2 linked regions of the Homo sapiens genome follow. The protein of the gene in region 1 purifies or fractionates together with the protein of each later gene. This does not show direct contact. Each region holds a gene or a part of one and is shown in the gene's direction. Other genes may lie near its edges. The genes, in order: PIGG and ADGRG5.

Region 1 (3,809 bases):
TCTGTCAGAGCTGTGTGTTTCCACTGAGCTCGGGTTTCTCCGATGTGTTTCTGTGGTATGCAGTTTGTCACAGGAGTATTTTTTCATCACTACTCTTTGATGATACAGATTGTGTTTCTGTTTTCTTAGAACTTTGAACTATCACCATTGGCAGCACCCTCAGATGCAGTTATCTAAAGTTCTTTCATAAATTTATTCATTCAACAACTATTTACCAGGATCTTGTTATGAATGAGAGGCTGTTAACAGGCACTGGAGACAGAGCAGGTACGAGGCTCTGCCCTCATGGAACCTTCCAGAGGGAGGAGAGAAAAGGAAGTGATCGATGGCCGATGGTGACGAGTACCTTAGGAAAAGAATAAACAGGGCTGGGTGCGGTGGCTCACGCCTGTAATCCCAGCACTTTGGGAGGCCAAGGCAGGCGGATCATGAAGTCAGGAATTGAAGACCAGCCTGACTAACACAGTGAAACCCCGTCTCTACTAAAAATACAAAAATTAGCCAGGCATGGTGGCGGGCACCTGTAATCCCAGCTACTCAGGAGGCTGAGGCAGGAGAATCGCTTGAACCCTGGAGGTGGAGGTTGCAGTGAACTGAGATCGCGCTACTGCACTCCAGCCTGGCAACAGAGCAAGACTCTGCCTCAAAAAAAAAAAAAAAAAAAAAAAAGAAGGAATAAACAGGCGTGGGGTGGGAAGTGAAGCGGGTGGGGGAGCCACTGGGGCAGGCTGGCCGCTGGCCATCTGGGAGGGCACATTACAGGCTGTGGGGGCAGCAGACAGGGTCCTCCATGGGGCGCACATTCAGGGGATGGTCAGAGCAGGGGCCAGAGTGGCAAGGGCAGGGCAGAGGAGATGGCATTAAGGGGTGAGGGCCACTGGGCGCTGGAAGGGCTTTCACTTGTATTCTGAGTTAAATGGGGAGCTGCTGCAGGGTTTGGTGAGAGCCAGAGTCTCCCACTTGCATTTTCGAAGGCTGTCTCAGGCGCCCTCGTGGAGGATTCTGCTTTGTGCTGTAGGAGGAGACCAGTCAGGAGGCAGTGGCTGTACTTCTGTGAGAGGTGAGGGTGGCCAGGGCCCAGGCAAGGGTGGTGAAGAAGTGGTTGCATTCTGGAAAGATTCTGAAGGTCATGAAGACAGGATTTGCTCACGTGCTGCGATATTGGGTACGAGCAGACCAGAGGCGTTAGGTACGACTCCGGGGCTTTCAGCTGAAAGCAAAGAGAGTAATAATTTCCTCAGGAGGGCACGACTTAGGAGGAACAGTTCTGCAAGGCAGGTGCTTGTGGGTGGGGGTGTTGGTGTCCAGGAAGCCATGTAAAGAAGTAATTTCAGGAAGCATGGAGTGGGCAGCTGCGTCAAAGGTTGGTATTGAATAAAATCAGGAATTGAGAACTGAGCTTTGGATCTGGCCATGGAGGGTGATGAGTGGCTTCGTCAGATGGAGAGTGGGGGAAGGCCTGGCTGGTACTAGGCAGGCGAGAGCCCTAGGCAGCAGACACTGCGACTCTAATGGGAGTAGGAGGTGGAGTTGCCTGAGGCAGGTGTGGGGCCAAGGGAGGTGCCAGGAGACAGCTACAGGAAGGGTCCAGGAGAGGAACGTTTGTCTCCCTGGGATGTCTTCAGACAATCGACTCTGACGCAGCCGCGTTCATCAAGAATCATGTTTGATACTGGGACTCCTTTGAGAGCCCGGAGGAAGTCGACTCCTATTTGGGGGCAGCAGTTAATGTGGTGTTGGCAGATTTCCCTACTTGAAGTAGAGGGATACTATTACTACCAAATAGAGTGAACGTCCACAAGCTTGCGCTGAGATGTAAACCGGCCTCCTAGAGTCACGTGTGGAAGACAAACCTGGCCAGCCAAGGAGTGCTTGGGAACCGGATGTGATGAGTGTCTGGAGGCCCCACCGAGCACCAGCTCTCACCCTGTGAGGTGGAGGACTTTGGCCATGGAGCCATTTTAGTCAAGACCAGGGACAACAGTGACTTGTGCTTTTCGTTTTTTAAAAAATAGTATGAGTTTGGTAGCTTTTGCATATTGCTTGTTTTGTTACTGTGTCCTTTTTTCTACGCTAAGAGTGATAAAAACACCAACAAAATTGGCCAGGTGTGGTGGCTCACGCCTGTCATCCCAGCACTTTGGGAGGCTGAGGCGGGGGGATCACAAGGTCAGGAGATCAAGACCGTCCTGGCTAACACAGTGAAACCCCATCTCTACTAAAAATACAAAAAATTAGTTGGGCATGGTGGCAGGCGCCTGTAGGCCCAGCTACTCGGGAGGCTGAGGCAGGAGAATGGTGTGAACCCGGGAGGCGGAGCTTGCAGTGAGCCGAGATGGCGACACTGCACTCCAGCCTGGGTGACAGAGCGAGACTCCATCTCAAAAAACAAAACAAAAAAGATACCAACAAAATCAAAACAACAATGGAAGGGTTATTTGCCTGTTCCAGAAGTAGTGGCTGGGGGAAGATGGGAACCACAGTGGATATGAGAGGAAACCAGCCTGTTAAAGGAATGCAGGAGCCTCCCTTGACTGAAAACACAGCCACAGCGTCTGGAACCCCCCCTGGCGGCCCATTGTCTACACCGTCGGGGATCCTTTTTCCTAAAACAAAATGGGGTATGTGTTCTGACACTGAAATACGTTTTAGAACCCACAGCCAGGCCCGTGCAGTCCCTCGGTGGCGTCCAGTCTGTTGGAGGCTTTGTGCCCACCCGGCTCTCTCAGTGTAGTGGGACCGGCTTTTTCTCACCTCTGGACTTTTGCACATGCTGTTCCCATCAGCTTGATGCTCTTCCTGCAGTTTTTTGCCTGGCGAATTCCTGGGTACCGTTTACATTTCAGCGTAAACATCAGACCTTCCTGGTCCAGCGCCCACTCCCAATCCAAAATCAGTTCCTCCCCATTACCAAAAATCCCTCATTGATACCCTCTACTTTTCCTTCCTGGGAAACTTGTAATTACAGCTGTAATGCAGTCACAGTTTGTAATTACGCTTGTGTGCGTGCGTGCGTGTCTGTGAGCCCTACTGGATCCAAGCCCCAGCAGGCAAGGATTGCACCTGCTTGCTCGCCATGCTGTGTCTCCCCTGGCACAGCGCCTGGCACAGTGCCTGGCACGTCGTCCACGCTCCATGGATATTTGTTTCGATGCATGCACAGGTGCACCCCCATAGCTTTGTGACTCTCTGATAGGCGGTGGGGTGTGGACACAGGCGTCCCCCCATCCAGGGTGGTAGGTGTAGCAATGAAGGATGCCAGCCCTGGAACCAGACTGCCTGAGTTTCATTTGCAGCTTTTACCCACTGGCACTGTGGCCCAGGTGCGTGACTCACCCTCTGTGTCTCAGTTGCCTCCTCTGGATAACAGTTCTGATGCTCATCCCTGCCTCATAGGGTCATTAGGGAGGTGAAACGAGCGAGCCGCCTAGTGTTGCTGGCTACTGGCACTTAGTGCAGAGCACCTGGTGCCGGCAGCAGTGGGGTGGGCCTGCAGGCGTGTGGGTTCATGCTTAGGGACTTGGTGCCTGCAGCAGTGGGGTGGGCCTGCAGGCGTGTGGGTTCACGCTCAGGGACCTGGTGCCGGCAGCAGTGGGGTGGGCCTGCAGGCGTGTGGGTTCATGCTTAGGGACTTGGTGCCTGCAGCAGTGGGGTGGGCCTGCAGGCGTGTGGGTTCACGCTCAGGGACCTGGTGCCGGCAGCAGTGGGGTGGGCCTGCAGGCGTGTGGGTTCATGCTTAGGGACTTGGTGCCTGCAGCAGTCGGGTGTGCTTGCAGGCGTGTGGGTTCACGCTCAGGGACCTGGTGCCG
Region 2 (3,809 bases), on another chromosome or scaffold:
AGCCCCCTCTCACCCTTACCCCACTCCGGGCTCTGGCCTCCCTGGCCATCTCTCTGGGCTGCAGTCAACTCCACCAGCTGGAGCAGATGCTACTGAACACCAGCTTCCCAGGCTACAACCTGACCTTGCAGACACCCACCATCCAGTCTCTGGCCTTCAAGCTGAGCTGTGACTTCTCTGGCCTCTCGCTGACCAGTGCCACTCTGAAGCGGGTGCCCCAGGTCAGAGGCTGCGGGTTGGGGGGTGTGGCCAGCTGCCCCGCCCTAGAAGTCCTCCAGGCATTTAAGGTCTGGACTTTCTTTAGGCTCCACTGTCTTCCTCCCCACACCCCACAGTCCAGGCTCTGCCCTAACTGGCAGTGAGTTGCCTCCTCTGTAAAATGGGGCTCATACTCGCTGTGTGAACTGTGGAAAGGGAGGTGCTTTATTGCCCCTGCAGGGCAGAATCTTCTTCCTGCTTTGGCTGGAGGCTGCCCGCTGCGGGAGGCGCTGTGGGAGAGGCCAGAAACCCTGGCTCCTTTTAGGACCCTGGGGTGATCAGCTGGATCCCTGGCAGGGGCTGGGGCTGGTGCTGGGGCTGGGTGCTGAGGTAGCTCCATCTTCAGGGGTTCAGTGGGTCAGGTAAACATCCAAAACTCAGGAACAGCATGGAGGGAAGGCCTGGGATCTTGGGAAGTTTGGGAGGAGATGCAGCCTGGGGGGAGAAGGTTCTGTGGGTGGAAACCCCAAGGAAGGTTTCACGGGGAGTGGGAGGCAGTGAAGGTGTTGGGGTCAGGTCTCCAGGTCCTGGTTGCCAAACAGCCTGTTTGCGACCCTCTGCAGGCAGGAGGTCAGCATGCCCGGGGTCAGCACGCCATGCAGTTCCCCGCCGAGCTGACCCGGGACGCCTGCAAGACCCGCCCCAGGGAGCTGCGGCTCATCTGTATCTACTTCTCCAACACCCACTTTTTCAAGGTCAGTGTGATGGCGGGCCAAGGAGGGTGGGTGCCGGCCCCTTCTTGGGATCCACTGCAGGTGCCCATGTCACTGCCTGGCCTCTGGGTGACCAGCACTGAGTGAGACCAACCAGCCATCTGTGCAATCCAAGCCAGCAATTGTCCCTCTCTGGGCCTCAGTTTCCCTGCCAACTTTAGCAGAATGGTAGGAAGGTATAATTACAATCTGCAAATAAGACCTAAGAAACCTACGATGTGCCTGTCGGTAGGCGGGAGACAGACAAGAAGGCACTTATTATTCCCTGCCCTCAGATAACTCTCTGTCTTGATGCCTAGACTAAGACCTTACAGATTTTTTTTTTTTTTTTTGGCAGAGTCTCGCTCTGTTGCCCAGGCTGGAGTGCAGTGGCATGATCTCGGCTCACTGCAACCTCTGCCTCCTGGGTTCAAGCAATTCCCCTGCCTCAGCCTCCTGGGATTACAGGCGTGTGCCATCATGCCCAGCTAATTTTCGTATTTTTAGTAGAGACCGGGTTTAACCACGTTGGCCAGGCTGATCTTGAACTCCTGGCCTCAAGTGATCCGCCTGCCTTGGCCTCCCAAAATGCTAGGATTATAGGCGTGAGCCACTGAGCCTGGCCTGATCTTAGAGATTTAATGTCAGCAGAAGGTTGATTATAGCCATAGAGATCCAGAGTGATGGATGAGTCAGGGTGGGGTTGGGGCTCTTCCCAGTGGGCAGTCCAGGGGAGTTTCTGGGGAAGGTGCCTTTCAACCTTGGCTTTGAAAGTGAGTGAGGATAGTGGTGAGGTGGAGGGCGTGAGGCTGGAATGCATTAAACGAATGGGAGGTGGAGCAGGGGGTGGTGAGAGGACAGCTTTCCACAGGGCAGAAACAGCACATGCAAAGGCTGGGAGGCTGGGAAGGCTGGGAGGCTGGGAGGCTGAGAAAGCTTTCACGCTGCACACGTGAAAGTCTTGCTGCTTGTTCTCATCCAGGGAAGCGGAGCTCAGACCTTACCCAGGGCCTCCCCATTTCCCCTCCACTCAGCCCTTCTCCTGCTGCCCTTCCAGGATGAAAACAACTCATCTCTGCTGAATAACTACGTCCTGGGGGCCCAGCTGAGTCATGGGCACGTGAACAACCTCAGGGATCCTGTGAACATCAGCTTCTGGCACAACCAAAGCCTGGTACTGCTGGGGGCGCCCCCGTTTCCACTGCACCCCTGCCCCTCTGTGACTCTCCTGTTGAACACTGGTTTGACTAGACCCAAACCTGTGGAACCATCTTGGAAATCCATCACACTTTGAAAATTCCTGCTCAAGAAATAAGAGAGAGAGAAGTTTTTACTCATGCATTTGTCAGAATTCTTTCAGTTGCAAGTAAGAAAAGACCACTTCAAGCCAGCTTGAGCACAGAGGGAACTGATTGGCACACATCCATGAAATGTCTAGAGGTGATCCACCAGCTTCAGACATAGCTGGATCCAGGGATGGATCTGATGCCCTTGTGGCTCAGTCTCTCTCCGTCTCAGCAATGGTCTCCTGTCTTGGCTGTCCATTCTGTGGCATGATGGATGCTGGAGAGCCAGACTTCCTTTCCCTCTTCCCATCAGGCTCTTCCCCCGACTCCCCACCCACAACCTGCCCCAGTGCAGATCAGGGTCTCAGGATCTTAAAGGTTCAGCTGGGTCACACATGTCCATCCCTGCACCTGTCACTGTGCCCAGGGGGATGGAATGTGTGGATTGGCCAGGCCTGGGTCACACGGCCCAGGGACTGGGGTGAAGGAGTGAGCTCCTAGGGTAAGTGCAGATGCTGATCCTGGAACAGAGACAGGGCTGCTTGTTGGGGGTGGGGGCAGAGTGGGGTGGTTCACAAGCCTCAGTGCCTCCATTTCTGGTTCCTGGCATTCCTGAAAAGCCCGGAGCCTCTGCTTTCTGGCTTCATCTTCCCTTCAGCTTCACCAGGACTGCCCTGCACTCTAAATTTCACCATCATCCTTTCCTTTCAGCTCTGGGCTTTTGCCACTATGGTTCCCTCCACCTGGAATGCCCTTGCCCTACTCGTGTTGAAATCCAACACGTCCTCTAAGGGTTCAGGGCCCCCACCTCCCCTTCTCCCTTTGGGTCAGCTCTGCCTACCCTCCATGGTCTTCCGTGACTACCTGTGTCATTTCCTCCACTTCTCCACCCACGTGGCTTGGCATTAGGGTTGTCTGTGGATGAGTCTCCCCCAACCAGGCGTGGGTCTGAGCACATTGCTGTTCCCCATGGGGAGGAAGGGAAGGGATCAGCTGGTTATGGAGCGCCTACTGTATAAAAGGCCAGAGCTGGACACTCAAGATTCCGTGTTGCCCTTTGTTTTTCCACCATTGTTGTAACATGGGTACGAATGATCCTATTCTGTAGATGACTAAACTGAGGCTCAGAGCAACTTGGTGTCTTGCCTGGGTCACTCTGAGAGCCCACAGTGGAGGTGGGACAGGAATCTGAGACTGTCTGAAGCCAAAGGCCAGCCAGTGCCTGGTAAAATGTTGGCAAATGTGCAGTTGAGTCACCGTTGGCCCCCAGGACTCCCAGACACTGATCTGCAGCCTTTCCTCTGCACCCTATGACTGACCCAGCATCTCCACCCAGGAAGGCTACACCCTGACCTGTGTCTTCTGGAAGGAGGGAGCCAGGAAACAGCCCTGGGGGGGCTGGAGCCCTGAGGGCTGTCGTACAGAGCAGCCCTCCCACTCTCAGGTGCTCTGCCGCTGCAACCACCTCACCTACTTTGCTGTTCTCATGGTATGTATGCATCCTGAGTGGGGCTCAGAGCTACAGAGGGCCCTGTGTCTGTGGCAGAGGAGCAAGGCAAAAGCTGGTGCAAGG

What was found.
Region 2: the proteins of PIGG (region 1) and ADGRG5 purify together in Homo sapiens (co-immunoprecipitation; one large-scale study listed by IntAct). This does not show direct contact.

What each region holds. Positions count from the first base shown.
Region 1 is NC_000004.12:516,210-520,018, forward strand, and holds part of PIGG (GPI ethanolamine phosphate transferase 2, catalytic subunit), read left to right. Parts: intron 1-129; exon of another isoform or gene 130-227; coding exon of another isoform or gene 228-267; intron 268-3,809.
Region 2 is NC_000016.10:57,563,027-57,566,835, forward strand, and holds part of ADGRG5 (adhesion G-protein coupled receptor G5 isoform 1 precursor), read left to right. Parts: intron 1-64; coding exon 65-221; intron 222-821; coding exon 822-953; intron 954-2,007; coding exon 2,008-2,124; intron 2,125-2,262; exon of another isoform or gene 2,263-3,572; coding exon 3,573-3,725; exon of another isoform or gene 3,726-3,809. UniProt on the Homo sapiens protein: Orphan adhesion G-protein coupled receptor (aGPCR). Ligand binding causes a conformation change that triggers signaling via guanine nucleotide-binding proteins (G proteins) and modulates the activity of downstream effectors, such as adenylate cyclase.